Linked DNA regions of Homo sapiens: all the other regions are linked to region 3. The links come from fine-mapping of genetic effects on gene expression. A gene starts in region 3. Each other region holds a variant in brackets. All regions are shown on one strand. Distances are between the middles of the regions.

Evidence for each region. PIP is the estimated chance that this variant, and not a neighbour inherited with it, causes the effect.
Region 1: its variant is the best candidate, but not a certain one, in a credible set for the expression of YEATS2-AS1 in pituitary (GTEx, PIP 0.75).
Region 2: its variant is the best candidate, but not a certain one, in a credible set for the expression of YEATS2-AS1 in thyroid (GTEx, PIP 0.88).

The regions. Positions count from the first base shown.
Region 1 is chr3:183,745,307-183,755,623 of GRCh38, forward strand. YEATS2 (YEATS domain containing 2) reads left to right here. Exons shown (of 31, transcript NM_018023.5): 9 at 2,366-2,410; 10 at 6,767-6,947; 11 at 8,820-9,059. Among named protein-coding and RNA genes, the nearest start is that of YEATS2, 53 kb to the left of the region's middle. The variant G/A (reference allele first, on the strand shown) is at 5,697.
Region 2 is chr3:183,533,847-183,544,163 of GRCh38, forward strand. The region is part of intron 1 of KLHL6 (kelch like family member 6); the gene reads right to left. Among named protein-coding and RNA genes, the nearest start is that of KLHL6-AS1, 9.7 kb to the right of the region's middle. RefSeq lists enhancers at 10-89, 7,133-7,242. The variant T/C (reference allele first, on the strand shown) is at 6,515.
Region 3 is chr3:183,804,740-183,815,056 of GRCh38, forward strand. It overlaps YEATS2-AS1 (YEATS2 antisense RNA 1), which reads right to left and starts at 5,712. Exons shown (of 3, transcript NR_046727.1): 1 at 5,280-5,712; 2 at 3,991-4,113; 3 at 2,325-3,373. It overlaps YEATS2 (YEATS domain containing 2), which reads left to right. Exons shown (of 31, transcript NM_018023.5): 28 at 2,127-2,353; 29 at 3,291-3,365; 30 at 4,358-4,431; 31 at 5,736-7,885. The coding sequence ends at 5,844. RefSeq lists an enhancer at 4,895-6,094.

The sequences.
Region 1 (10,317 bases), 59 kb before region 3:
ATTCCTGTTAAAGTGCGAATGCCCCCACCTGCTCTCAGGGCTCATTTTGACTCGATTTACTTCCCCTAGATTGTCTCGCACAAATCCCCTGATGAACATTCTGCTCTAGCCATGGCAGTCTATTCATGTCATAGAGATGCCTTGGGCCGTCTTTCCTTGGGTCTTTTTTAATGCTCTTCCCCTCCTCAGATGCTTGTCTGAATTCTTTGCATTCTTCAAGTTCTTATGTAGCTTTTCCTGGCTGTTAAAGCCTGAAGTGATCTTTGTATTTTGTACAGTAAATAATGACGTGTATTTGATTCTGTAAATATACATTAAATATTAAATACTCTAAATATTAGAGTTACATAAAATTTAAAGTTCCTAGAATGTGTGAAATTACTATATCCTGCATTTCTGACAGGTAGTCATTTACTCTCTCCTTACCCATTACCCTAGAGCACAGCACTTCCCAAGCCAACACATTGATCCATTTAGTAAAACCTTGACCCCGTTTGTCCTTTTGTCGTAGTGTTTCTTTTTTCTGTTTTGTTTGTTTGTTTTGAGACAGGATCTCGCTTTGTCACCCATGCTGAAGTGCGGTGATGCAAACACGGTTCACTGCAGTCTCAACTTCCTGGATTCAAGCAATCCTCCCGCATCATCCTCCTGAGTAGTTGGGACCACAGGCGTGCGCCACCATGCCTGGCTAATTGTTTAATTATTTTTGTAGAGTTGAGGTCTCGCCATGTTGCCCAGGCTGGTTTTTTTGTTTGTTCGTTCGTTTGTTTTTTGTAGATAGGATCTCCCTTTTTCACCCAGGCTGGTGTGCAGTGGGGCGATCATGGCTCACTGCAACCTCAACCTCCTGGGCTCAAGAGATCCTCCTGCGTCAGCCTCCTGAGTAGCTGAGACTACGGGAACATGCCACCACACCTGGCTAATTTTTGTAGAGACAGGCTTTTGCCATGTTGTCCAGGCTGGTATTAAACTCCTGGACTCAAGCAATCAGCCTGCCTTAGTCTCCCAAAGTTCTGGGACTACAGAAGTGAGCCACCAAGCCTGGCCTCAGGCTGTTGATTTTTGAAATAATACAGAATAAGGCTTTGTTTTATAAGAACGCTAAAAATGTTTAATGATAGCCTTCATGTCTCCTGAAATCATTTCTACTCCAGGCAAAACCTGTTCCTGTTACATTTCTTGTATGCTTTGTTTTCCAGTTCCTCTTCTTGTTTTGATACTAGTTCTGTCCTATCCAATGTCCCTCTTGAAATTTGGTCCCAACAATGAAAGATACACCCGTGCGGATTACAGAGAGACTATTATTTCTATGCTCTGGAGACTGTGAAAATGGATGTAACCTAAAATTACCTTTTTTTTTTTTTTTTAGCAGTCATACTGTTAGCTAAGGTTTAAATATTAAAACTCCAGATTTCTTCCATGGAACCACTATTAATCCACCCTGTATTGCTTTTTATCTTGTGAACACTAACTCTCATAACTGACTGAGTTGTCCTCTCTATGTTGGCTGCTAAGAAACTCAGCCAGACGTGACACCTACCTCTCATAAGCCTTTAAAACCTTGTATTTACTAACCTACCCTGGCTTCATTTTTTCCCTCTCTTTTTTTTTTCTACCCAATTTAATACTTTTCCCTGTTAATCTTATTGCATGTTTATATTGTTATCACAAGTTCTTTTTTTAGTGGTGGAATATAAATTTACAAATAAGAACTTAACCTTTTTCTGTGTAATTGTAAACTCTTGTTTATATTATTAACATACCCTCAGTTTGTGTTCCTCTCTCAAAAAACAAATCATGATGCCAGTATATTTGAAGTCATTAGCATAGCCTCTACTGCCTATGTTTTCATTCTTTTTTTTAAGTGCTTAGTAAATATACTCTGAGTATATAATTGTGTCCAAGAATGTATGCATTTAAAATATGTATAGCCTGTCATTTAAAATATCTGTACACAGTCTTTGCAAACCTCATCTATGTGGCTGCATGATATTTCAGAGATTGATGGTCCATGGTTTACTTACACATTCCTTTATTCTGGATTTTTATGTTGTTTTTAGTTTGGTTATAGATAATGCTGCAGTAAACATCTTTTTGTGTAAAACTTCCTCCATTTTTACATTGTCCTTAGAATAGGTTTTTTAAAATTATAATTTATATTAAAAATATAGTAACTATATGTCTGAGGTTTTTATTGATTTTACTCAATTTTTTATTGAAGTGATGAATTTATATTTTACATTATGAAAAAGTAGATCCTATGGTATGAAGACTTGCAAAAGAGCTGTAGATAAAGATTGTATCCTATGATAATATGTAAGTAAGTGCAGTGAAATTTAACACTCTCCCTTTTGTCTTTCCATAGCTGGATAGAACTTATACTGGCTTGCAGACTCTTGGAGCAGAGACGGTAGGTTTTTTTCCTACAGTATTATCTGGGAATGAGTAGGATGAAAATTGATCTTCATTTTTTGTTTGTTTGTTTGTTTTGAGACGGGGTCTTCGCTCTGTCACCCAGGCTGGAGTGCAGTGGCATGATCTCGGCTCACTGCAACCTCTTCCTCCCAGGATCAAGTGATTCTCCTACCTCAGCCTCCCGAGTAGCTGGGATTACAGGAACGCACCACCATGCCTGGCTAATTTTTATATTTTTAGTAGAGACAGGGTTTCACAGGTGTGCGCCACTGCACCTGGCCGATCTTCATTTTTAATTAGGGAAAAAATTAGTGTTAGTTTTTTTTTTTAAAGTTTGCCTTTCTGTGTTAGTCCATTCTCACACTATTATAAATAACTACCGAAGACTGGGTAATCTATGAAGAGGTTTAATAGACTCACAGTTCCACAGGCTTACCAGGAAACTTGTGGCTCCTCTCCCCTTGTCTCCCCTCCCTCCTCTTCCCTTCCTTCTCCCTTCCCTTTCCCCTTCCCCTTGTCCCCTCCCCTTCCCCTCCTTTTTTTTTTTTTTTGAGAGGGAGTGACGCTCTGTTGCCCAGGCTGGAGTGCAGTGGAGCAATCTTGGCTCACTGCAACCTCCTCCTGGGTTCAAGCGATTCTCCTGCCTCAGCCTCCCAAGTAGCTGTGACTACAGGCACGCGCCACCACACCCAGCTAATTTTTGTATTCATAGTAGAGACGGGGTTTCACTATGTTGGTCAGGCTGCTCTCGAACTGCTGACTGCTCTCGAACTGCCTGACCTCAGGTGATCCACCCGCTTTGGCCTCCCAAAGTGCTGGGATTACAGGCGTGAGCCACCACACCAGGCTTTCTCCTTTTCTCTTCTCTTTTCTTCTTTTTCTCTTCTCTTTTTTTAATTGAGACAGGGTCTTACTCTGTCAGCCAGGCTGGAGTACAGTAACATCATGGCTCACTGCAACCTTGAATTGCTAGACTCCAGCCATTCTCCCACCTCAGCCTCCCAAGTAGCTAGGACTGTACACCTGCACTAGCAAGCCCAGCTAATTTTTACATTTTTTATAGAGACAGTGTCTTACTATGTTCACAGGCTGGTCTCGAATTCTTGGCTTCAAGCAGTCCTCCCACCTCAGCATCCAAAAGCACTGGGATTACAGGCATGAGTCACTGCGCCCAGCCTTGGTTCATATATATATGTGTGTGTATATATATATATTTTCAAAATGTATATATATTTTCTTGAGACAGAGTCTCACTCTGTCGCCCAGTCTGGAGTGCGGTGGCGTGATCTCCACTCACTGCAAGCTCCGCCTCCCGGGTTCACGCCATTCTCCTGCTTCAGCCTCCCAAGTAGCTGGGACCACAGGCACCCGCCACCACGCCCGGCTAATTTTTTGTATTTTTAGTAGAGATGGGGTTTCACCGAGTTAGACCAGGATGGTCTCGATATCCTGACCTTGTGATCCGCCCATCTCGGCCTCCCAAAGTGCTGGGATTACAGGCGTGAGCCATGGCGCCCGGCCGGTTCATATATTTTTTAAAAATTGTGCTTAAAAAACACGTAACACAAAATTTACCGTCTTACCCATTTTTCAGTGTACAGTCTAGTGGCATTAAGTATATTCACATTATTATGCAGCCATGACCTTAGTCCATCTTTAGAACTGTTTTCGTCTTGCAGAGCTGAAACTCTGTACCCATTAAAAAATGACCACCCACTCCTCCCGCCCCCCCAGCACTGGCAACTGCTGCTCTACTTTCTGTCTGTGTGAATTTGACTACTCTAGGGTACCTCATATAAGTGGAATCATAACATATGTGTCTCTTTGGGATTGCCTTATTTCGCTTTGCATAATGTCCTCAGATTTCATCCATGTTGTAGCGTATGTCAGAATTTCCTTCCTTTGTAAAAAAATTTATTTTTATTTATTTATTTTTGAGAAAGAGTCTTGCTCTCTCTCACCCAGCCTGGAGTGCAATCACGGCTCACTGCAGCTTTGACCTCCTGGGCTCAAGTAATCTGTCCTTAGCCTGTCAGGTAGCTGGGACTGTGGGCGTGTGCCACCATGACCAGCTAATTTATTTACTTACTCGTTTATTTATTTATTTATTTTTTGAGATGGAGTCTCGCTCTGTTGCCCAGGTTGGAGTGCAGTGGCTCGATCTCGGCTCACTGCAAGCTCCACCTCCCGGGTTCACGCCATTCTCCTGCCTCAGCCTCCTGAGTAGCTGGGACTACAGGCACCTGCCACCACGCCCGGCTAATTTTTTTTTTTTTGTATTTTTAGTAGAGACGGGGTTTCACTGTGTTAGCCAGGATGGTCTTGATCTCCTGACCTCATGATCTGCCTGCCTCGGCCTCCCAAAGTGCTGGGATTATAGGCATGAGCCACCGCGCCCGGCCTACTTGTTTATTTTTTGTAGAGACAGGGTCTCACTATGTTGTCCAGGCTTGTCTTCAACTCCTGGGCTCAAGCTGTCCGCCTGCCTTGGCCCCCCAAAGTGTTGGGATTATAGGCATGAGCCATTGTGCCCCGCCCCTCTTCCTGTTTTAGGCTGAATAATACTGCATTGTATGTATATACCACATTTTGTTTATCCGTTCACCTGCTGATGGACACTTGCGTTGCTTCCAGCTTTTGGCTGTTGTTAATAGTGCTGCTATGAACGTAGGTGTACAGGTATCTATTCAAATCCTTGCTTTCAGTTCTTTTGGGTATATACCCAGAAATGGAATTGGCTGGATCCTATGGTAATTCTATTTTTAGAGGAACCACTGCTATATTTTTTCGTGGTAGCCGCACCATTTTACATTCCCACCAACAGTGCACACGTATTCCAGTTTCTCCACGTCTTCACCAGCATTTGTTAATTTTTTTTGTATTTTAATTTATAGTAGTTATTCTGTTGTTTGTGATGTGATATCTTGTGGTTTTGATCTGTGTTTCTCTAATCATTAGTGATGTTGAGGATCCCTTCATGTGTTTGGTGACCATGTGTTTATCTTCTTTGGAGAAATGTCTATTCAGAGACATTCAGAAAATGTCTTTGCCCATTTTTAAATTAGGTGGTTTGGTTTTTGTTGTTGCTAAGTGACAGGAGTTATTCATATATTCTGGATAGTAACCCCTTACCAGATAGATGATTTGCAAATATTTACTTCCATTCCGTGTTATATTTTTGCCTTTTCACTCTGTTGATTGTGTCCTTTGATGCACAGAAGTTTTTAAGTTTGATGTCCCGTTTGTCTATTTTTTATTTTGTTGCCTGTGCTTTTGGTGTC[G/A]TGTCCAAGAAACCATTACCAAATTCAGTGTCATGAAGCTTTTCCCTTACATTTTCTTCTAGGAGTTTTATTGTTTTAGCTTTTATGTTTCGTTCTTTGATCCTGAGTTAATTTTGGTATATAGTGTAAGGTAAGGGTCCGATTGCATTCTTTGGCATATGGATATCCAGTTTCCCTGGCACCATTTGCTGAAAATACTGTCTTTTCCCCCACTGAATGGTCTTGGGACCCTTGTCAAAGATCATTTGACCATATATGTGAGGATTTATTCTGTTCCATTGGTCTGTATGTCTGTCTTTATGCCAGCAGCATACTGTTGATTACTATGGCTTTGTAATAAATTTTGAAATCAGGAGTCTGAGACCTCCAACTTTGTTCTTCACCTTCTCTCCCTTTTTTTGTATTCATCATATAATAATCAGCAATAGCCATTTAATCAGAGTTCACTAATTAAATCTTACTCTGTCTAGAGAAATCTGCTGTATTATATCAGAAGGTACTTATTGAGCGCTGGTCCAGGTGCTGGGAATACAGAAATGAACACGGTAGCTTCTTCCTTCAGAGTCAAATTCTTAGTGGCATTGAAAATGGGGAGGGTAGACAGTAAACACAAAAGCAAATAAAATTACTTCAGTTACAAATAAGTGCTGTGAAGATAAGAGTAGCTGGGGGATAAGGAAGTAGCTTATTCTTGGGTGGTTAGGCATGGTCTCTCTGAGAAGGTGCTACTTCATTGAGACCTGCTGGTGAGAAAGGCAGCCATGCAAAGATTTGGAGGAATAGCGTTGTAAGGAGTAGCAACAGCAAAATCAAGAGGTCCCAATTTTGTGAATAATTTCACTGAGATTTGTATGTTAAACCAGATTAGATTTTCACTGAGGTATGTGTCTGTTAAGCCAGATTAGATTACCTTCTAGAATAAATCCTTTAGTTCTTCAGATTGAAATTGCCTTTGAAGTGTGATTAGAAGTTATCTCTCACATCCCGGAGATTACATTCTTGGACGGGACTTGAGCTTTCTGTGACATTGATGATGGACTCATGAGCCTGATTGTTGCCCAATTGTCTAGGTAGTGGATGTTGAACTCCATCGCCATTCTCTCGGAGAAGACTGTATCTATCCTCAGTCCTCGGAGTCTGACATCTCTGATGCCCCTCCATCTTTGCCTTTGACCATTCCAGCCCCAGTGAAAGCTTCTTCACCAATAAAGCAGTCACATGAGCCAGTACCCGATACCTCTGTGGAGAAAGGTAATACAGCAGTTTTCCTTGCATAGCGTTGTTCTGAGGCATTCCTTTCCCATTTGCTGCTTTCAGAGACCTATAGTATATGGAAAATAACTTTGCTATAAGTGGACATGCTGCCTCTACTACACAGTTCTGTTATGAAAGCCAAATTTCCACTCTTGTCAAAAATATTTTTCCGGCCGGGAGCTGTGGTTCACACCTGTAATCCCAGCACTTTGGGAGGCCAAGGCGGGTGGATCATGAGGTCAGGAGATTAAGACCATCCTGACTAACACGGTGAAACCCCGTCTCTACTAAAAATACAAAAATTTAGCTGGGTGTGATGGTGGGTGCCTGTAGTCCCAGCTACTCGGGAGGCTGAGGCAGGAGAATGGCTCGAACCCGGGAGGTGGAGCTTGCAGTGAGCTGAGATGGTACCACTGCACTCCAGCCTGGACAACAGAGCGAGACTCCATCTCAAAAAAAAAAAAAAAAATTTCCATGAAGTTTTACTGACATATTATAAAATGTAAAAATAGCTAAAAAACATAAGATTTTTAAATTTATTTTTATTTTATTTTATTTTGAGATGGAGTCTTGCTCTGTTGCCCAGGCTGGAGTGCAGTGGCATGATCTCGCCTCACTGCAACCTCCACCTCCTGGGTTCAAGCAATTCTCCTGCCTCAGCCTCCCTGTTAGCTAGGATTACAGGCGTCCACCACCGCTCTCGGCTAATTTTTGTATTTTTAGTAGAGATGGGTTTTCACCATGTTGGCCAGGCTGGTCTCGAACTCATGACCTCAGGTGATCCACCCACCTTGGCCTCCCAAAGTGCTGGGATTACAGGCATGACCCACCACGCCTGGCCTAAAACAGATTTTTATCACTTGATAATTCCTTATAATGTATTACAGGAAGACTTTATGGTTCAGCTTCTGATTGTGCGAGCAAGAAACTTGGATATTAAATACCTGGTTTTACTTAAGAAAAGATTCATCACCAACAATGTATTTTGACCATGCCATTTTTAAATTTAACAAATATATGTGTATAAATACATATTTTAATGTTCCCATATATAAGCATAAAAGATATAAAATTGATCTTAAATGTTTTATTTCTAAGCCTATATTTTAATGTGGTTAGTATTATAGTTCTTTTATAAAATCTCAACTTTATTCCTCTTTAGATTTCAATTGCATCTTTTTTATGGGCATTTAATAAGATACAAGAGGGGCCGGGCACGGTGGCTCATGCCTGTAATTCCCAGCCTTTTGGGAGGCTGAAACCATCGGATCACCTGAGGTCAGGAGTTCAAGACCAGCCTGGCCAACATGGCAAAACCCCGTCTCTACTAAAAATACAAAAATTAGCCAGGGATGGTGGTGCATACCTGTAATCCCAGCTATTCCGGAGGCTGAGGCACAAGAATTGCTTGAACCCGGGAGGTGGAGGTAGCAGTGAGCTGAGATCACACCACTGCACTCTAGCCTGGGTGACAAGTGAAATAATGTCTCAAAAATAAGTAAATAAATAAGATAGGAGGATATCATTAGATTTAGTGAATGCTTTCTAAGATTTTTTCTTCTCTAAACAGTTTTTCAGTTTATATATTAAAAAATGGAGGAACATAAGAACTTTTGTTCTTTTTATGTTATACATGGTTTATAGTTAATAATGTTTTCAAGTTTTTTTAAAAAAGCACTTTAAACATTATTCTAAGCATATATATTTTTCACCAAAAATATGAAGGGATGATTGATTGTATTTATTTTGCTACCAGTACATGGTTTAAAATGGTGTTGAAATAATGCATTTTTATTCTTTTTCCACAACGGTAAGGTTTTATTTCAAAGCGATTGATGACTTGCCGTTTGCCTCTTTCATCTCAAGCAGGATTCCCAGCTAGCACTGAAGCTGAACGACACACTCCGTTTTATGCTTTGCCATCTTCATTGGAAAGAACACCCACCAAAATGACTACATCCCAGAAAGTTACCTTTTGTTCCCATGGCAATTCAGCTTTCCAGCCAATAGCATCAAGCTGCAAAATTGTTCCACAAAGTCAGGTTCCTAATCCTGAGTCACCTGGAAAATCCTTCCAGCCCATCACCATGAGCTGCAAGATTGTGTCAGGTATGCAGATGTTTTGAAGACAGTGTATGTGGAGTTGACTGGATGTTAAAATTGTTGGAACAACAAAACAAAATACTTGGCTTTTTTTCTCTTAAGTTCTTCTAAGCAGTGTTATGTTTAACAAAAGGAAGTTTATCACTGTTGATTGGCAAAGCTGTCACAAGGCAAAAACAAAGCTCATTCATACGGAAATGAATGGAGGAGATAAATGAAACTCAAATGGTCAAATTTTTGTCTGCCAGAATCAGCACAGGTAAAATGTTTGCTAGGATATATGGCTGAAACTAAGGTGTAGGAATCGTGTTTGGGGATTATATACATGGAAACCACAGTGACTAGTGATAGAAAAAATTTAGAGGCCTTTGGCATGGAGTTAAATTTTAAGGGTTAGAGTTGGTTGGGAATTGAAATGCTTTATTCTGTCTGTAACCACACTAGAAAATTATTCATTCCTATTGTCAGTAGGTAGTTCTGAGTTGTCTTGTTCACTAAGATTGGATTATCTTTTGCCTTGTGATAGTTTCATTTTATGTTAGGTAAAATTTAGTAGGAATATATGGTTTTGACTGTTCCACCTTAGAACAAAACATGTTTGTTAAAAGGCAATTGGAAATAACCAGGAAGTATGAGGACTTCTGTATAATAGTTAAATGAAGGGGGGAAAAAAAGAATGTTTGGTGTTGTAAGTAGACAGCTAAGTAGAAATAGGATCCAAATCTTTGATGAGAGATAAATAGCTTCTAATTGGTAGGCAATTTTTTTTTTTTGAGATGGAGTTTCACTCTTGTCACCTACGCTGGAGTGCAATGGCGCGATCTCAGCTCACTGCAGCCTCCACCTCTCTCGGGTTCAAGTGATTCTCCTGGCTCAGCCTCCCAAGTAGCTGGGACTGCAGGCACGTGTCACCACTCCCAGCTAATTTTGTATTTTTAGTAGAGACGGAGTTTCACCATATTGGCCAGGCTGGTCTTGAACTCCTGACCTCAGGTGATCCACCTACCTTGGCCTCCCAAAGTGCTCCGGTTACAGGCGTGAGCCACCGTCCCCTGTCATTGGTAGGCAATTTTACCTACCAGGTAGAAAAATTTTGGAACTTGCTACTTCAGAGGTGGAATAGGCTGAACATATAAATTGATTTGAAGTTTAAAGAAATTCATGGATGACGTTTGATCAATAAAAGACAGTAGAGGATGTTTAACTGTCAGTAACTTTTGAGAGTATTTTGCGGGAACACGAATCTTTCTGGGTTACGGCTGTG
Region 2 (10,317 bases), 270 kb before region 3:
CTTCTCTTTTCCCTCAGCTGGCCTCTTTCTCCTCACAAGAATATGGTAATAAGAAAGAAAGAACGAAGGTGAATTCCGGGGCCTCTGTAAAGTGAAGAAATCCCCGCCCAGAGCTGGGGGAGCCGTGATGATATCAGAGCAGGTGACCAATTTACAGACCAGTTTCCTCAGCCACAAACCCTCTTGACCAGCAGCACAGAGCTGTCTGCAGAACCGTAATCACCAGCCTTTAAAAGTACTTTACTTTTAAAGTACTTTAAAAGTACTTTACTTTTAAAGTACTTTGTACTTTTAAAGTACTTTAAAAGTACTTTAAAAGACATTACTTTAAAAGTAATGTCATATAGGGCTTGCCTCGCTGCCTCCTGATTTTATAAAGAATCTGCTCTCAGAGACAGCCTATGATTTCTTCTCAGCTCAGCATATCTTCCCTGGAGGAGTTGGAAGATCACTCTCTAAGCCTCCCTTTGTTGGAGTGTCCAGAGCAAGGCTGCCCAATAGAAATGTAATGTGAGTCATCTATAGCATTTTACAGTTTCTAGTCACCACATTTTTTGTTTGTTTGTTTGTTTTTTGAGACAGAGTCTCACTCTGTTGCCCAGGCTGGAGTGCAGCGGCACGACCACAGCTCATTTCAGTCTCCATCTCCAGGGCTCAAGTGATCCTCCTGTCTCAGCCTCCCAAGTGGCTCGGACTAGAGGCATGAACCACCATGTCTGGCTAATTTTGCAATGTTTGTAGAAATGGGGTTTCACCATGTTGCCCAGGCTGGTCTCAAACTCCTGGGCTCAGGCGATCCACCCACCTCGGTCTCCCAAAGTGAGGGATTACAGGCATGAGCCCCACCATGCCCGGCCCCATTTTTAAAAAGTAAAAAGAAAAAAATAAAAGTCAACTTTAATAACATATCTTATTTAACCCAAAATATACCTGAAATATCATTTCAACACGTAAGAAATATTTTAAAATGACTAATGCGATAACTTACATTCTTTTTCTCATACTGTGTCTTCAAAGACCATCATATATATGTATGTATATATGTATATATGTATGTATGTATGTATATATGTATGCATATATATACATATATATATATATATATTTTTTTTTTTTGAGACAGAGTCTCTCTCTGTTGCCCAGGCTGGAGTGCAGTGGCACAATATCGGCTCACTGCAGCCTCAGCCTCCCGGATTCAAGCGATTCTCCTGCCTCAGCCTCTTGAGTAGCTGGGACTACAGGCTCATGCCACCACGCCTGGCTAATTTTTGTATTTTTAGTAGAGACGGGGTTTTACTATGTTGGTCAGGCTGGTCTCAAACTCCTGACCTTGTGATCTGCCCGCCTCAGCCTCCCAAAGTGCTGGGATTACAGGCGTGAGCCAACGTGCCCAGCCTTATGCGTATTTTATACTTAAAGCATCTCAGTGCAGAGTAGGCACAATTCAAATGCCCAACAGCCACATGTGGCTAGTAGCTACCATATTAGACAGTGCAGCTCTTGCCATCAGTCCTGAACTCAGGTGTTGGGGTCACCCAGACCTACAGTCATCTCAGGAGGCAAAGCAAATTTCACCCTCGTGAATGTCATATAAATAAATATATGGGAAACAGGAAGTTCAGCAGGACAGGGTGGGCACTAATTATGGGGTCAAATAAGCTTCATATAACTGAGGCAACACATCTCTAGAGACCCACCAACATGACATTTAGAAATGTTATTTCACCCGGACTGTGACTTGAAGATTAGTGAGAGGTTAATTTGGTTGAATCTGTATAATCAAGTCTAAAGGAGGGATGTTCCAATGGTTTAAGTTAATGCTTTGCACTCCAAGGAGCTCCTAAATGAAGTCAATGTGTTTCCCATGTGACATATTATTGGGCTCTCTAGGGTCATCTGGACTCTTAATTGGGCTGTCACTGCTAGCCACGGCTTCCGAATTCTTTTTGAGACGAGTCTCGCTCTGTCGCCCAGGCTGGAGTGCAGTGGCACAATCTCTGCTCACTGCAAGCTCTGCCTCCCGGGTTCATGCCATTCTCCTGCCTCAGCCTCCTGAGTAGCTAGGGCTACAGGCGCCCGCCACCACGCATGGCTAATTTTTGTATTTTTAGTAGAGATGGGGTTTCACCACGTTAGCCAGGATGGTCTCGATCTCCTGACCTCATGATCTGCCCCCCTCGGGCTCCCAAAGTGCTGGGATTACAGGTGTCAGCCACTGTGCCTGGCCCCAAATTCTTGTTTGGAATCACAGTCACTTAATAACATGCTGCCCCAGCTCAGCCCATGTCTGACCGGGCATCTGGATTCCCTGCAAGCAGACCCCCTCTGCTAGTGACGTAAGGGAACAGGGGGGCAAGACAAGGGGGGGAGGAAGCCCAGCAAGACAAAAGTCATGCAAAAAGTGGCTTCAGCCTGATCCTGCAGGGACCTCTGGAAAAGACACTTCTGAATTGTCCCACCAGGAGGCAAGGGCCGTGATACTCTCTGACCACACTGACTGTCTTTGGTTACAGGCCATCCAGGAGTAGGTAAATTCTCCAGCACATCTGGCTTTGTGTATGTGTGAGTTTGCATGTGCACAAGCCAAGGGACTTCCGGGAGCCTGGGGAGGGCAGGGGAAAAAGAGCAGCCACCTGGCTGTTGGCAGGCAGAGGAGGGACTGGTGTCTAGTCTGACCTCTGATGCTCACTCATTGTGTGACTTAGTGCAAGTGAGTGAACCTCAGCTTCCTCATCTGTAAAATGGTATAATAGTCCCCACCTCAGTGAGCTGCACAGAAGAATAAGCAAGATGAAGTACACCAAGGCGTTAGCACGATACCTGGCACCTCGTCAGCACTCAATCAGGGAAAGTATTTTGGACCAAATCAGAGGAATCTTGGAAGGTTGGTAGGAGACACTTAGGGGTAAGTGGACCAAGCACCACACTGACTCACAACCCTTATCTCTTCAGCATTTGGCCGGGTGCGTATCAGGTAACTGCGTGTCTGACTTGCTGCATTGCTGTCGACCATGCATCCAGAGCAAGCATAGGGCCAGCGCTGTGCACGAATCGGCCTAAACATCTCAGCTCAGTTCGTGGGAGAGAAAGAAAGTGCCCTCAAGACAGTGTCCTTCTCTCCAGGGGTCTTTTTAACCAGCTTTGACTCCCCAAGGCCCAGCATTTCTCTGCTCCCTTTGAAATATTTTCATGAATTTTCTGCCACTTAAATACACTACCCTGGCCATGGCCACCATGCTGAACATGGGTAAGATGAAACTAAGGGGAAATCTGCATATTCCTCATAGACTATACTCCCAGGCCTCCTGCTGCTCCTCTGGGAGATCCATGGACACACTCAGACAAAGCTTGGTCCCCATGGGTTGTCAGCAATAGAGTAGGAATCAGAACCTAGGGCTTCAGGCTCTGAATCAGGAGCTCAGCAGTGCACGAAAACCAAGAAAATCAGCAGGAGTTCAAGGCCTTTTGCGGGGGATCAACTCAGTGTCAGCGCTCAATGGACCAGCCCAAACTTTGCTCTCTGAGAACACAGCTGAGTTGGTTGCTGACAACTTATCCTGTGGCATACATGCAAGATATTGTGTAATAAAAACACTTTCTAGAAAGACACTGACCAATTCTCATGAGATTGTTGTAAAACAGAGGTAGCTAGGAAGATCCTCATTTTACAGCAGAAACAATCTCACAGCAGCATACCAGTTGCCCAACACTTGGGCGGTGAGTCAGTGCCCACCCCAAAATAGAGCCTGACCCAGCAAGCTTGTCTCCCACAACAGTCATGAAAATATCCACAGGCCCAAGAATCTCCCAGCATGAAGTCAGGCCATGCCACAAACACTGCCTGGCCACACGCCTCTCCATTCTCCACCAGGCTTCCTCACCTCAGGTCTCTGCCAAACATCGCCTTCTCAGAGAGGCTCTCCCCGACACTCCCCCTAATCTAAAATCGCCACTCCCTCACCTCTTCGCTTCCTTTATTTTTCTTCATAGCTCTGCACATCCTGAAATTAGATTACCTATCTATTTGTTAATTATTGTCACCCCACTAGAATGCCAGCTGAGTGAGGGTGTGCCATGCTCAGCACTGTATCTAGGGGCCAGAGCAGTGCCACCACCAAGTAGGGACGGTCCCTAGGGAAAGTGAGTGAATGAATGAATCAACCAACTTGTCCTTCCTAGTCCCTTTGCACTTGCTTTTGACAGGAATCTGTACCTCCAAGAATTATCAAATATATCTGGAGGATGAGGCCCTCCACCGCCACTAGGGAACTCCTATCACACTCCCGAGTCCAGGGCCTAGAGCTTGAAGAGGACACTCGAACATTCAACGTACCTGCACTACTTCAATGAGCTCTACAAGCTCCTGTAGTTCCTAAACTTCACCAACTCAGAATATTTCACCCAGCCCGACTCCATTATAGCTGACCCCTTCCCTAGAACTCCACACCTCTGAACTCCCTGCCTCCTGTAACCCTAATTCTAACCCTATAAACAAATACCCACACCTATCACTCCCACTATCTCACTCCTACACCGGCTCCACCTGTCTGCCCCCTGTTCTGTCCTTCCTCTTATTTCTTCACCATTCCCCGTTTATACCAGGAACGAACTCCCCTGTTTCACTGAGATATTCTGTGTGGCGGTGGCTTTAACATCAGTTGCAAAATGAGTTAAATTCTACTTAAGAATACAATGTCCATATGTATACAATCAGTTTAAAAGTTTTTTAAACTAGTCAGCATGTACTACACAATGAACACTATTGTTAAGAAAGGATTATTGGATATAAACACAATGAAGTCAATCAAAGGGGGTTCCATTGCAAAGAAAGCAGGGAGTCAGCAGATGCAAGTGTGACCTAGCATGACATGGCATCTCTCTCTATGGTCCCCAGCACTTCTTAGTTCAAGGCACCAAAACCTGAGCCAATACTAACCAAGGGAAGCACTTAAACATTCAGCTCTGCCCTGTTTCTGAGCTCAAGCTGTCCCCTAAGTTTTATCATATGGATCCTGTCTCAATACTGGAGTCCTGCTTACATCCTTGGCCTCAGATACTCCAGCCTCAAGAGGTGGATCTCAAAATGTGTTCCCTGAACCAGCTGCATCAGAACCTTGGGTTGCTTATTCAGAATACAGAATCCTGTACCCCACCTACCTTAGACTTACTAAAGCCAAATCTCTAGCAGTAGGGCTGGAGGTATGTATTTAATTAGGTGTCCCTGGCTCCGACTCATAATTCCTTTGCAAAGCAAACTTTGAGAACCTCTGCCCTAGAAAGAGGTCACCCCTACTTCCTCCTGAGAAGGAGACTGAATGAAGATCAAGGTCATGGAAACAATTGGCCATAGTGCTAGGGAAGATATGTTTCGGAAAGTCCTCCCTCACTATGGATCCTTCCTTTCATCTTCTAAGACACAGCCTTCCTAGAATTCCATGAGGCCTATGGCTGCCTCCCGAATCAGGTGGCAATCCCATTCCGTTTGCCAGCTTTGCTCCAAACTGACAGAGGAGCTGGAAGCCTACAGCTGCCCCGATCTGACTCTAAGCATCAGCAGGCCTCAGAATAACTCCCTTCTGTGGGCCAGGCACGGTGGCCCATGCCTATAATCCCAGCACTTTGGGATGCCGAGGCTGGCAGATCTCGAGGTCAGGAGTTCAAGACCAGCCTGGCCAACACAGTGAAACCCCATTTCTACTAAAAATACAAAAAATTAGCTCGGTGTGGTGGCGGGTGCCTGTAATCTCAGCTTCTCGGGAGGCTGAGGCAGGAGAATTGCTTGAACCCGGGAGGCAGAGGTTGCAGTGAGACAAGGTCGCACTACTGCACTCCAGCCTGGGTGACAGTGTGAGACTCCATCTCAAAAAAAAAAAACAAAAAAACAACTCCCTTCTGCCAAGCTTCTTGCCCTAGTTCACCACTCCTCAAGGACACTGCCCACGGCCCCTGTGGAGAAGAAAACTCTGGCCATGTTCCTAGGGAAGCAGAATCCCTCCAAGTCCCACCAGACCATTGCTGATGCCTCAGCTTGCCATGAAATTCTGCCATCCAAGTTTATGACAGAAAGAAGGACTTGTTCTGTCTGCAAGATCAGACAAGAAAGAACATCAATTACAACATATACTTGTGGTCAGGCTTTAGTGACGATACAGTCACAAAGATACAATGGACAGTTTTTGTTTTGTCTGCCCAACTTACTCCTGTCTCTTTTAGCAGGAGTACTCAGATCTTCCGTTGGGAAACACCCCACCGTCCAAGCCCAAGCCACAATGATTGGTTCAGGGATGGGAATAGGAAGAAGCCAATTCAATTGGAGCCAATTCCAGAACTTTCTTTGGAATTACTGAGAAAGAGAAGCTGTCTCTTCCCACTAGAATTGCTGAGCTGGTGGACATGAAAGTTTGGAGATGCTGGCTACCTGCTTGTCCTCATGTGTGAATACATTCCCTGAGAGAGAAACCCACACAGAGGAAAGCGGGACTAAGAAGGAGAGAGAAACTGAGTCATGGTAACA[T/C]TACTTTGGGCACAAGGACCCAACTATACCTGAAACCATTACCCCAGACTTTTTTTAATTCCATGAGCAAATAAATTATTTTTTCCCCTTTATGCTTGGACCAGTTTGAGCTGAATGTCTGTCACTCGCAGGGCGGAGTGATACAATTGGACAAAAGAAATCCCAGCGATTCTCTGAATTGGAACTCCAGGCCCGTTTTTGTTTGTTTGTTTGCTTGTTGGTTTGTTTTGAGACAAGATCTCTCTGTTGCCCAGGCTGGCCTCAATCTCCTGGCCTCAAGCAATCCTCCCACCTCAGCCTCCGAAGTAGCTGAGACTGCAGGCACACGCCACCACACCCGGCCCCATTGATGATTACCCTAAGCTCTCCTACCTGAGAGTTTAACTTACAAAACATGGTGATTATTCTTTACCTTTGTCTGCTTTTGTTTTTACACATCTTCCACCTCCTTCCTGAAGATGAAACCTGGCTTCCCCTAACAAAACCCCACTTCCCTCACAAACCAACGAGGTCGGCTCAGATTCTCACTTCCCCTCTGGGCCTGGAGCAGGGTCCGCATTTGCGCTCGCCGTCCACCACCACATCCCGACCAGGCTATTGCCCGGAGGCTCCACATGACCCTCTTTTTCCACTTTCCACTCCCACCTCCAGGACTCTGTGGCTTCCCTGTGACCATGTCATTGTCCAGAAGTTAGGGATCAGCCTCTGCTTAAAGATTTTTTCTGAGCCTTCCCTGGTTCTAACCACTTAGAAACTTGCAAGCTGGCACTGGCCCCAGTCTTTACCCCAAGGTATTCAAATGCTAAGGCTCCTCCAGTCATAAAAGGTATCCCTTGTGACAGGCAAAGATGATCCTATGTGCGTTCTAGGCTGCTCCCTCCGCCAGCTGCCACAGAGGAATCTGGACTGCCAGGCCTGTCCCTTGGGCTTTCATGATACAGAATCCAGAGGGAAAGGGACAGAAGACAGGAGCTCCTCCAGCTGGGGATGGGGAGCAGTTATGAATCTAGACGTGAAGGAGGAGCTGCCACAGTTGGGCTACACGCAGGAGTGCACAGGCCAGGCTTGACTTGAGCTAAAATCCAGCGCCCCCTACACCTGCCAAGCCTTGTGCACTAACGTGGATTGCAACCCCCAGAAAGGGGCCCCCATTTCTAACTGGTCCTCCCAGGTAACTTATTTACATTCAGAGGAAGGGGCTGAGTGTGGTGGCACATGCTTGTAGTCCCAGCTACTTGGGAGGCCAAGGCAGGAGGCTCACTTGGGGCCACGAGTTCAAGTCCAGCCTGGGCAACATAGCAAGCCTCTAAAAAACACAAAACAACAAAAACAAACAAACAAAAAAACCAAAGGAAGGCACCCTAAAAGCCAGCAGTGGTCTCTATCAGAGATGTGGATAAGAGAGGGGAACATATTTTAATAATAGCTGTGGCTCTATCTCCAAGGTGTTCAAGAATTGCAAGTCCAGAACTTGAGATGTTTTGTTTATGAGCTTTGCTCTAAAACGGGATAGCCTGGGCAGGAGAAGGGTTGATAAGGTCAGACCACTTTCTCTTTCTCTTTCCAATCTTGAGGCTCAGAGCTGGTCCTCAGCAAAGAGTGGAGTCAGTTTGCTTTGTGTTCCAGCCCTCCTAACCTCACTTCCCCCTACCCTTCCCTGCTGGGCAGCGCTGCCTCTCCCTCATGCTCTCTGTGGTCCGGCTGCCCTGCAGGCCCTCAGAGAGGATGTGAATGTTGCTGGAGGCCTTCTCCCCAACCACACTGCCTATACCTTAATTCCAACCCTCATCTCCTCTCACTGAAATTTCTTGCAACTTACCTAAGGGTCTGCCTAGATTGATGGGACCCTCCATACCCACAGTGCAAAGGATTATTTTAAGGGAGATCTTGGATCACATCTCTTTCCTACTTAAAGACTCTTCCACGGCTTCCCACTATCTGTAAGTCATGTTTCAAACTCCACAGCTTCACCCAACAAAACCTTTCCCGGTCTGACCATGCCTGTCTCTCAGCCTTATTGGCCTGTGCATGTCCTTTATTTCAACCTACTCTTCTACCTGTGGTTACACTGCGTGGCACCTTCCCGGATGTGCTTCTCTTTGCCTGGAATGCTCCTCTCTTCTCCTTTCTCCCCTCTGGCCCCTTCTGGCCAATGCCTACTCATCCTTCAAAACTCCGTTCAGATATCACCTCTGCCAGGAAGCCTTCTCAGACTGCTCTTTCTTCCGTCTGATTTAATGCCCTTCTGTAAGCTCCTATAGCTCCCATGTAGCAAACCTCTCACAGCCCCTGTCCCCAGCTCCACCATAACCCCTGTGCAGAGCTGCATCATAGCACTTATCACCCTGTACAGTAAACATCAATTTACTTATCTCTCTGTCCTAACTAGATGATGATTTCCAGGTCAAGCAGGAACCATAATTTATTCATCTTTGTAAACTCTGTGCCTGCCACAGAGTAGGCACTTAATAAATTTGTGTCAAATGGATGGATACATGGATGGATGGATGGATGGATGGATGGATGGATGGATGGATGGATGGACAGATGGATGGAAATTCACTAAGTCCACTCAGCACTGTAGTTCTGAAAGTTTAACATTTTGCATTCCTTCCCCTCCAGGTATTTGCACATTAAGAGAGATAATACTGGCTGGGTGAGGTGGCTCAAGCCTGTAATCCCAGCACTTTGGGAGGCTGAGGCGGGCAGATCACCTGAGGTCAGGAGTTCAAGACCAGCCTGGCCAACATGGCGAAACCCCATCTCTACTAATAATACAAAAACTATCTTGTTGTGTTGACCTGTAATCCCAGCTACTCTGGAGGCTGAGGCAGGAGAATAGCTTGAACCTAGAAGATGGAGGTTGCAGTGAGCTGAGATCGCACCACTGCACTCCAGCCTGGGCGACAGAGCGAAACTCCATTTCAAAAAAAAAAAAAAGAGAGAGAGAGAGATAATACTATGCAGTGCTCCTTAACTGAAGGCCTGCTAATCATCGGTGGTACACTGGAGGAGCATGGGAGGAGTGAGGATTTTCATAGCAGTTACTAAGAATTCTCTCCCCCTCCATTTCCAGGCCCACCTGCTAATGAGACAGACATCGTCTGCCAACCCAGCCTGCTATCCTGAGTTTTAAAGACACTGCTAGTCACCTGACACTTTCCTAACTTTCCCTAATCTCTGTTCTCTTCTGTCCTATTTTTTTGTGTTGCGTTCGCTATACACAATAATACAATAAAATTCCACCTTCCAGGAGTTATCCACTGGGCCTCCACCTCTCCCAAAATTCCCCCAACACCAAAAGGCCCTTGATACTCAGCCCTCCATAAACCTGAGCTTACTCTACAAGACACATGATCTTTTCAATCCAATAAGGTCTTACTGGACCCTGGACCTGAATCATTATATGCAAACCTGCTGAGTGTCTATTATTTATTGTAGATCCCAGAGCATCTCTTCAGAAAGGGCTATGATGCAACCTGTTAGTTTTGGTTTGATTGTGTTTTAAAGCCGTAGCACCAGGCCGGGTGTGGTGGCTCACGCCTGTAATCCCAGCACTTTGGGAGGCCGAGGCAGGCGGATCACCTGAGATCAGGAGTTCAAGACCAGCCTGGCCAACATGGTGAAACCCCATCTCTACTAAAAATACAAAATTAGCCGGGCATAGTGGCACACGCCTGTAGTCCCAGCTACTCGGGCGGCTGAGGCAGAAGAATCGCTTGAACCTGGGAGGTAGAGTTTGCCGTGAGCTGAGATCAGGCCATCGCACTCCAGCCTGGGCGACAAGAGCGAAACTCAGTCTC
Region 3 (10,317 bases):
CACTTTGGGAGGCCGAGGCGGGTGGATCATGAGGTCAGGAGTTCAAGACCATCTTGGCTAACACACTGAAACCCCATCTCTACTAAAAAAACAAAAAAATTAGCTGGGCGTGGTGGCCGCACGCCTGTGGTCCCAGCTACTTGGGAGGCTGAGGCAGGAGAACTGCTTGAACCAGGGAGGCGGAGCTTGCAGTGAGCCGAGATTGCACCAGTGCACTCCAGCCTGGGCAACAGAGCAAGACTCCGTCTCAAAAAAAAAACCACACACACAAAAAAAACAGACCACTGCTGCAGGGCCATGGGGTGTAGGAGCAAGGGATTAAAGGTATATAGGCAGAAGAAGCATTTTGAGTTTCACCTCAAAGAATAAGAAGGGTTGGGCCGGGCGTAGTGGCTCATGCCCGTAATCCCAGCACTTTGGGAGTCAAGGCAGGAGGATCACTTGAGCCCCTAGGAGTTTGAGACCAGCCAGGGCAACATAGCAGGACCTTGTCGCTACAAAAATTACAAAAATTACCCGGGTGTGGTAGCTCGCCTGTAGTCCCAGCTACTTGGGTGACTAAGGTGAGAGGGATCACTTGAGCCCGGGAGGTTGAGGCTGCAGTAAGCCATGAGCACACCACTGCACTCCAGCCTGGGCAACAGAGCCAGGCCCTGTCTCAATAAAATAAAAAGAAAAGTTGTTCTCTGCCCCCAGCCCCATTTATATAGAAAAACAGAAGCTCCACCCCTCCTGTCCAAGGAAACCTGGAGCACAGAGGTGGGGTTACTTTAAGACTTAGGGCCGGGCTCAGTGGCCTCCCACTTTGGGAGGCTGAGGCAGGAGGATTGTTTGAGCCCAAGAGTTCAAGACCAGCCTGGACAACACGGTGAAACCTTGCCTCTACAAAAAATGCAAAAATTAGCCGGGCATGGTGGTGCATGCCTGTAGTCCCACCTATTCGGGAAGCTGAGGAGGGAGGATTGCTTGAGCCCAAGAAGTTGAGGCTGCAGCGAGCTGTAATCATGCCACTCCTCTCCAGCTTGGGTGACAGCGCAAAACCCTGTCCAAAAAAAAAAGGGGGGGCAAGTCCCAGTTTTGCCATTAAGCTTCTTGAGAGCCTAATGCAGGATGGCCTCTCCTTTCTCTCATCTCCTGCAGCGCTTAATATCAACAGCATGAGGGCTTGTCTGACTTCGCTGTGTAAGCTACTCGGAGAGCAGAGACCGTGTTAATGATCCCCGGGCTTCACTGACATTGTGTGGAAAGCACAGTACTTGCACATACTAGGCTTCCTTTTAATCTGACTGATTCCAAACGGCCCCTAACCTACAATGGTTTGACCTGTGATTTGATGTTGTGACTTTACAATGGTCTGAAAGCTGTAGGCATCAGCACATACCTTGACTTACGATGGCCTTGTCCAGATAAGGCCATCGTAAGTTGAAAATATCCTAAGTCAAAAATGATATTTTCAACTTACGATGGGTTTTTCAGGATATAGCCCCAGCCATCATAACTTGAGGAGCAGCTGGAGCTTGTTAGAGCCCAGTCAGTAAAACAAAAGGCCAGGAGCTGGGTGCCCTTAAATCTTGTACCTGGTGTGGACCTCACACACTCATCCAGAAAGTGGAAGGGCACTAGTGCCCTAGATCTGGCCTTGAGGTCCTCACACTCCTGATTAGGTTTTGTATAAATCACCTTATTAGAGACTGGACCCATAATATACATTGAAATGTTAACAGTCCTGCTCTCTGAGCAGTGAGAATAGGGGTGATTCTTTTTATTTTCTTCACTCTGCATTTCTAAATTTTCCAGATTTGAGATGAGGAAAAATCAGGTCAGTCCTTAATACTCAGAGGGAGGGGGATGACCTGGTTTTTGGTGGCAGAAGTGAGAATTCCTACTCTTTCATCTTAGATGGCAGTTACCTTACATAGATCACACACAAGATGCCTGTGTTTATGCCTTTCTCCCTCGTGAATTACTAGTTCTCATCATTATAGATCCATAGAATGTTAGAACTGGAAAGAAGGTCAGCTCCCCTGATGCTTATCCCCCTTCCTCAGACCATGGGTCTCTTGGAGACGGAAAGTCCTCTTCCGTTGGCCCCACAGCTGTTGTAACACTGCTTGCCTGTCATTTAGAGTGCCCATCATCATTCTCCTCTGCTGACAACCTCTGCCGCAAACTGGAGGACCTGCAACAGTTCCAGAAAAGGGAACCCGAGAATGAGGAGGAGGTGGACATCCTCAGCCTCTCCGAGCCAGTGAAGATAAACATCAAGAAGGAGCAGGAAGAGAAACAAGAGGAAGTCAAGTTCTACCTGCCACCAACCCCAGGGTCTGAATTTATTGGGGATGTCACACAGAAGGTAGGGGTTGTGGTGTTAATAGTTCATGCAGCAGACCAGCTCAGAGCTAGATGTTCAGACGTTCAGCTTCACAGACCCAGACCCAGGTGTTCAGCCTCACAGACACAGACTCAGACCCAGACTCTTCTGGTGCCGTAGATGCTTGACTTCCTTCTGCCTGGTTGACCCAGGTGTGCTCTCAGGGCTCCCACCGTCCCACATCAGAGCCCTTGGGCAGAAATGCTAATTACATGTGAAAACATTGCTTGTTGAACGCAGACGTGAAGCAAAGCTGGCTAGATAGAAATGGTTGATTACTCTTCATCTTGTTTTTCTCATCTGCCTCAGTAGAAGCACCTTTCCCTCATGAGGCACGTCGTACTCTTTCTGAGTTGCACGTCAGCGCGTAATCCTCCCCTGATGTGTTGATAGCTCCTGAGTGCCCCGCCTGTGGTGCAGATGGCGTGCACCTGCCTTACTATACAGGAGAGAGGTATTTATCCACCCTGCTGGAGCCTAACAGCTCTTCAGCATCTGCCAGTTGCTCAGGGCCCAAGGTGAAAGACAGTGTGCTTTCATTGGATGCCATGAAGAATGGGCAAGATGCAGTTTCCAAGTGCAAACAGGACGTTGGAGTCTGATTCCAGACCTTTCAAAGTGTTGATTGCGTATCAGAACCCAGGCAGATCCCAACCATGTTCTCCCACGAAGGAGATTTGAGAGATTTTAATAGGATTATAGTCATATTTTAAATATCAGCCAGAAATGTGGAAAAACAAGATAACATTCTTCTAGATGTTATATTCCGTGTTCCTTTCCCGTGAATTTTGCCCAATATGTTTGCAGAGTCCTCCTTCCAACCAGGCATCGCTTTGCATGTCAGGGAGGTATGCTTGTTTGGAGAGAGGCTGTTTCTAAAGCAGCGATACGAACAAACGGCTTTCTTCTGCTTTTCCAGATTGGGATCACCCTGCAGCCCGTGGCACTCCACAGGAACGTGTATGCGTCCGTGGTGGAGGACATGATCCTGAAGGTGGGTGCCTGCAGGGGCCGCCAGCCAGGAAGGATGGTTGCATCCCAGGCGGTTTGGAGTAAGGGGCAAGGACAGAAAAGGAACAAAGATAACAGGCTTTAAAATGTCTCGTCTTATTTGGGCTTAAGTTCTCTCTTTTTGTTTTTTTGTTTTTTTTCCTTCTGATTTTTAAATGGACTAAGTTATGTTTCCTCTGAGTCATGTGGTTTCAGGTGCCTCCTAAGACGTATTCTGGGGGTGGTGGTCAGTGTGCTCGTTGCTTTAGGAGGTGGCAGAGACAAAGCCTATGGTTTTCTGTACACGTCACAACAGCAAACAGCCCCAACTGTCCTGACCCTGGCAAGGGGACGAAAATGCCGCAGCCTCCTTCCCCAGCCTGATCCTAGCTCAGCAGTTCCTTTCCTCGTGGATCCTCTCCAAGAATAGGGATACCTCCGTAACAACTGCTTTCCTTAAATACAATGTCTAGGGCTGGGCGCGGTGGCTCATGCCTGTAATCTCAGCACTTTGGGAGGCCGAGGCGGGTGGATCATTTGCAATCAGGAGTTGGAGACCAGCCTGGCCAACATGGTGAAACCCCATCTCTACTAAAAATAAAAAATTAGCTGGGCTTGGTGGCGCTCACCTGGTAATCCCAGCTACTTGGGAGGCTGAGGCAGGAGAATCGCTTGAACCCGGGAGGCGGAGGTTGCACTGAGCCAAGATCGCGCCACTGCGCTCCAGCCTGGGCGCGAGAGTGAGACTCCATCTCAAAATAAATAAATAAATAGAATAATGTCTGATTAATGAAAATCACTCCAATTCATAATTTCTCAGAATCATGGCCTTTATCATTATGGTCTATTATTGAGGCCTTTAATTTTTTCTTAAGGACTTTTTAATCCCTAGTTGCAGTGGTTTCAAACATTTGGGGTAAGGGATGGGGTTAAATGTGTCCCTTCTTGCCAGCAAGCAGATGGCCATTTGAAGAATAACAGCATCTTCCATTGTAGGCTACAGAACAGCTGGTGAATGATATCCTGAGACAGGCTTTGGCAGTTGGATACCAGACAGCTTCTCACAACAGGTATTACTATCTCTGCAGTCTGTGGTGTGAGGCTTACACCTCTTTCCTAACAGTTGAATTGCCCATGAAGGTGTTTTATACTTACATCAATCCAGTAGGAGATGGAGTGAGTGCTTAGGACACTCTTAGAGCCAGATGAGCTCAAGGGTCTGCTTTGTCATTTTTAGAGAACCTCATGGTTGTGAAAGCTCACTCAGCTTTGCTCAGAGGTTTATATCCTCCTCATTACTTCACAGACACCTAGGACTCTGTTTTATTACAGGGTTGAATAAATATTAGCTTTGCAATTAAAGATAACAGTGTCCATTACATGTCAGACACGAGGGCCAAGCGTTGCATATATTACCTAATTTGTTTTTCATTGCAGAACTATTATTCTCTTTTTAAAAATCAGGAAACCGGGCTTTGAAAGGTAATTTTACCCAGCTTACCCAGCAAATACAGTGTAGACCTGGACTTCCGACTCAGGTCTCATTGGCTCTGAGGCCCCTGGGCTCGCCACTGCTCTTTGCTGACTCGTTGTCTTTGATTAAGACACTGAGTTTCAGTCTGTTCCTAGGCCCTGAAAGGATGGTAGATAGGCCACATCTGCTTTTCTTTCGGAGGAAACAAATATTATTTTATTGCATTATGCTAAAGGCTGTCACAGATTTATAAAATTGTAGCAAAGTGCCTGAGGACATGAAGGGCCTAAATCAGAGGAATAGTAGATGAAACTTCACAGGAATATATCAGACAACATAGGCGTCTTTAGAGAAAAGGAAGGGGAACCAAGAGTTCCGGTCCTGCTGCCCACTGTCCTGCTTGGACCCACAAGTGAGCCAGGGCCTCCTGTGGCCCCTGCTTACCTCTGTGCTCCCTGTCCTGGAGGGGTAGAGTGACTTAGGTGCTTTTGATGGAACGATTAACATCACGCCTGGCCTGGCGTGGCTCCGTCTCCCGTCTTTCTAGGAGATGGGAAATAAGGTCCCAGAGTTTTGTGGTGCTTTGACTCAGCTTTCGGTCTGCTGAGACTCACTCACAAATGTGTCATTCCGTTCTGCCATCCGCTTTGTTTTCTTTCTCTTTTCTCAGTTCTCAGAATCTTTTTTCCTAATTATTCAACCAACTTGTTGACATCCTTCTCATGCCTATGACAGGAAGGCAGTCCTCACCCCAGAGTGGCCCTAAGCTATGTCTGTGGCTCAGGAGCCCTCTCCACGGGGCCTCTGCCTGGGATGGTCCCTGTGATGAGTTAAGTGAATAAATGATGAGATATACGTGAGAGAATTTCACCTGGTAACACCCTTTGTTTTTTGGACCAGGATTCCCAAAGAAATTACAGTGAGTAATATTCACCAGGCCATTTGCAACATTCCTTTTCTGGACTTCCTCACAAACAAACACATGGGAATATTGAATGAGGACCAGTGAGCGGAGTGAGGTGCCCTGGAGAAGCAGGCTTTGAAGGCACAGCGAAGCTGTAACTGAGGACCCTGCTGCTCGGGAAGGAGGTGGTTTCCAGTGTGACTCGGCATGTCATGGCTACCCAACCTTTGCCGCTGCCTGTTCCCACGTGTCACCAGCACGCTGCACTCCAGATGAAATCCTCCTAGGACAGGAGTTTGTTTCCTGAGTGTGGAGTGAGGCTGTCAGTGGATCCGTGCTTTGTCGGCCAGCGTTTCTGCAGTCTTTGTAAAGGCCCCACGAGAGCGGGCCAGGCCGTGTGCCTCAGGCCCTTCTCCCTGGGTGTGCTTAAGGGGGCTCCTTGGGCCCGCCTCCCCAGGAGGTAGAAAATGAGTGGCAGGCTAGAGATTTCACCCATTTTGTGGGCTGGAGTTACCAGTAGCTCCAGCAGTTACCCTGAAGAGAGATTGGGCTTCAGCCTTCAGCAGGTGGTTCTCTCCCATGCCTGGCCTTGGTGTGGAGGGGCTGTACTCTGAGCCCAAGTGAGTCAGCTATAGGAAGAGGCCATACCTAGAGCCAAGAACCATGAAGGCCTGAGAGACGGCAGACTGAGCAGAATTCCTTTTTTGAGCACGAGAGCATTACTAGAACCATTGTCAAAGCAGTGGCAAGGGACGGAGAGGTCCCAACAGGAGTCAGGAAGAGGTTTGATTATAACCAAGAAAACTCACTATGCTAGGAATAGACTGTGTGCACCAGTCCCAGACACTTGGCAGAAGTGTAGCAGCGTTACACATGTGTGCGAAGCAGATCGCAGGTTCCACGCCATCTGCATGGCCTGCAGGAGCTTCTGCTGCTGACCCCATGCTGAGTGGCCAGTGGGGAGCGGCGCCCGGCAGGCTCTTCTGGGGTCGTCTGTCCTATCCGTGGATTGTATATACTCTTCTCTGTTAAGGAGTTTTTCCCAAGAAGAAAAGTATTTAAAAGAAATACCAGTGAGTGCCTTAAAGTTGGAGAAGTAACTGCCCATGCCCAGAAATAAGGATGCCAGTGCCCAGAAGCAGTGAGATTAGTCTGTGTCCACAAGCAGAGGCCCCCTCGATGGGAGGGAGTGGCAGGCAGGAGAAGGTGGCGCTGCCAGGTGCCCGGGTCTATTGGAGGCGCCCCATCTCAGACTTCCTAACACAGCCTGTGTGGAAGGCAGAACAAAGAATGCATGCCCAGTCAGAAATCTGTTCTATTCTGCTCCAGGAAAATCGGAAACCTGTGAGTCAGAGTCAGAGAAACTTACCCAAGCAACGTAATTCCTGTTTTCATGGGTCCTGTAGATGTTTGAGTCAGGAAGGTAAGGCGGGGAGTGACTGAATAAACTCTGCCTTTTAAATTGAGCATCTGGGCCGGGCATGGTGGCTCACGCCTGTAATCCCAGCACTCTGGGAGGTCGAGGTGGGTGGGTCACCTGAGGTTGGGAGTTCGAGACCAGCCCGACCAACATGGTGAAACCCCGTCTCTACTAAAAATACAGAAAATTAGCTGGGCATGGTGGTGTGTGCCTGTAATTCCAGCTACTCGGGAGGCTGAGGCAGGAAGAATCACTTGAACCCAGGAGGCGGAGGTTGCAGTGTGCCAAGATCATACCACTGCACTCCAGCCCTGGTGACAGAGGAGACCCCGTCTCAAAAATTGATTGATCAATTCAGCATCTGAGGGCTGCAAGTACAGAAGGAATCTATTCTCAGCAGGGCATAGGGCACGCACTGGCTTAACAGTTTAGTATATAAGGCTCAAATAGTCTATACCTGAACTGCTATAAGCAAGGTCGATAGGGAAGTGGATAGATTGCTTCAGCAAAGTGAACTGTGAGATCTCCAGGACAGAGGGAGAAAGATCTGATCCAAATGAGAACAGATTGGTTATTGCAGGTATCACAGCCTAAAGAAATTATCTTTTTGCAAAAGAAATATTAAATGATTTAGCAGTCTCCACGTGTGTTAATGTTTCAAACGTGTATCATAATGTGTATAATTGTGTAACAAAATTGTCTACAATAAATCTTTTGGTATTTGTGGTGGGTGTTTCTGAGTTTGAAGCATGGTACTCAGGCAGGGTTCTCCCTGCACTGGGATGAGGTGATGGTGTAGAGTCTTATTGATATGTTTAAATTAATTCCTCTACTTCTTGCCAAAAAAAAAAAAATGTTGCAACCGTATAAGATAAAGGATTACAGTTACATAAAAGTCTAAAAAAAATTTGGAAATGGACATAATTATTCCTGACAGCTTGGGGCAAAAGAAAACTGCATAAATGAGCTCAGAGCTTCCTTAAAGCCAAGGCAGAGAGAGAATCAGCTCCTCGTGTCTAACAAAGAAACATACCGGGTTATCTGGCAGGGTAAAATTGGACTGTGTTGAGGACTGAAACAAGTCACTCCTGTGACACGGTCCTTATGCTGTGACCATCTGCTAGCATATGGCTCAGAAATAGTGAAAAATCCAGAAACGTAAGAGCTGAAAGATTTTGAAAGCTTTGGTTCTTCAAAGGCATTATGATACAGTCCAAGTATGTAACTTTCTGGGGACCAGACTTTGCTGAGAGTCATAATGGAGAGTCAAAGAGTCTGATGGCTGAGAGGGGTGTGCCTAGGCTTGCCTTCATAAATGTTCATTGTCTCAGCCAAGGTTTTGGCAGGAGCGAGAGCAGGCTCAGATCAGTGTCACAGGCAGTACCTTACGTGACTTGGACTCCAAGTTATTGATGGAAGGAGTCCTGTGTGAACGGGGCCAACAGAACTGGCTTTGGGGCTTCATCATCATCTTGACCCTGTTCAAAGGGGAGGTTCTTCCATTTGTCTGGGGTGGGCTGCAGGGCCTAGCTTTTTTCAAAAGCTGCTTTTGGGAACGTGGCCTGAGTCCTGGAGTTCTGTACCATGGAGCACAGAGAGGCGAGACCTTGTTCTAAATGCCTGCAAACCCCCTCGACTTGCGGAAGGATCTTTAGGACTTTCCACCTGCAGAGCGTCATAGTGCAGCCCGTGGCTGCTTGAGGCAGCTCCCGCAGTGGCAGCTTGGGTTGTGAAATAATTAAAAAGTTAACATTTTCTTTTGTCTGGAATTTGCTAACATGTTGAACTGCTTTTTATTTATTTAGAGACAGAGTCTGGGCCGGGCACGGTGGCTCATGCCTGTAATCCCAGCACTTTGGGAGGCCGAGGCAGGCAGATCACAAAGTCAGGAGATCGAGACCATCGTGGCCAACATAGTGAAACCCCGTCTATACTAAAAATATAAAAATTAGCCAGGCGTGGTAGCAGGTGCCTGTAATCCTAGCTACTCAGGAGGCTGAGGCAGGAGAATCGCTTGAACCTGGGAGGCGGAGGTTGCAGTGAGCCGAGATCGTGCCATTGCACTCCATCCAGCCTGGGTGACAAGAACAAGACTCCATTGTCTCAAAAAAAAAAAAAAAAAAAAGAGTCTGCTCTCTCGCCCAGGTTGGAGTGCAGTGGCACGATCTCAGCTCACTGCAACCTCCGCCTCCTGGGTTCAAGTGAGCACGTCTGGCTAATTTTTGTATTTTTAGTAGAGATAGGGTTTCACCATGTTGACCAGGCTGGTCTCAAACTCCTGACCTCAAGTGATCCACCTGCCTTGGCCTTCCAAAGTGCTGGGATTACAGACATGAGCCACCATGCCTGGCTTGCTTTTTATTTTTAAGAACTTTTTCTTTACAGAATTATTATAAAAATGTTTACAGAAACTTTAGCAAGCATAAAAAATGTGTTTGAAAAACTACTCATAATTCCTCCTCTGAAAGATAATCACTGCTAACATCTCTCAGTGCCTTTCTTTCAGTCTTATATGCGTATTATGTATGTGTGTGAGAGATGATTGATAGATAGCTATGAGTTGGGACCACATGGTTGAGACTTGTCTGTCTCAGTTGCTTCTTGGGTCACTTGCTGAACATGTTAGGCCTGATTATTTAGACCTAAGTGAGTGGGAAGGAGTTTCAGCATAACCCACATCTCCTCATAAAGAGGCCAGGCTGGGTGCAGTGGCTTACACCTGCAATCCCAGTGCTTTGTGGAGGCTGAGGCAGGAGGATTGCTTGAGCCCAGGAGTTCAGGACCAGCCTGGGCAACCATAGGGAGACCCTGTTTCTACAAAATGTACAAAAATAAATAAAAAATGGCCGGGTGTGATAGCTCAACGCCTGTAATCCCAGCACTTTGGGAGGCTGAGATGGGAGGATCATCTGAGGTCAGGAGTTCGAGACCAGCCCAGCCAACATGACGCCCCGTCTCTACAAAAATTAGCTGGGCATGGTGGTGGGCGCCTGTAATCCCAGCTACTCGGGAGGCTGAGGTGGGAGAATATCGCTTGAACGTGGGAGGCAGAGGTTGCAGTGAGCCGAGATTGCACCACTGCACTCCAGCCTGGGTGACAGCCAAAAAAAAAAAAGCCAGGCATGGTGGCATGCCCCTGTGGTCCCAACTACTCGAGA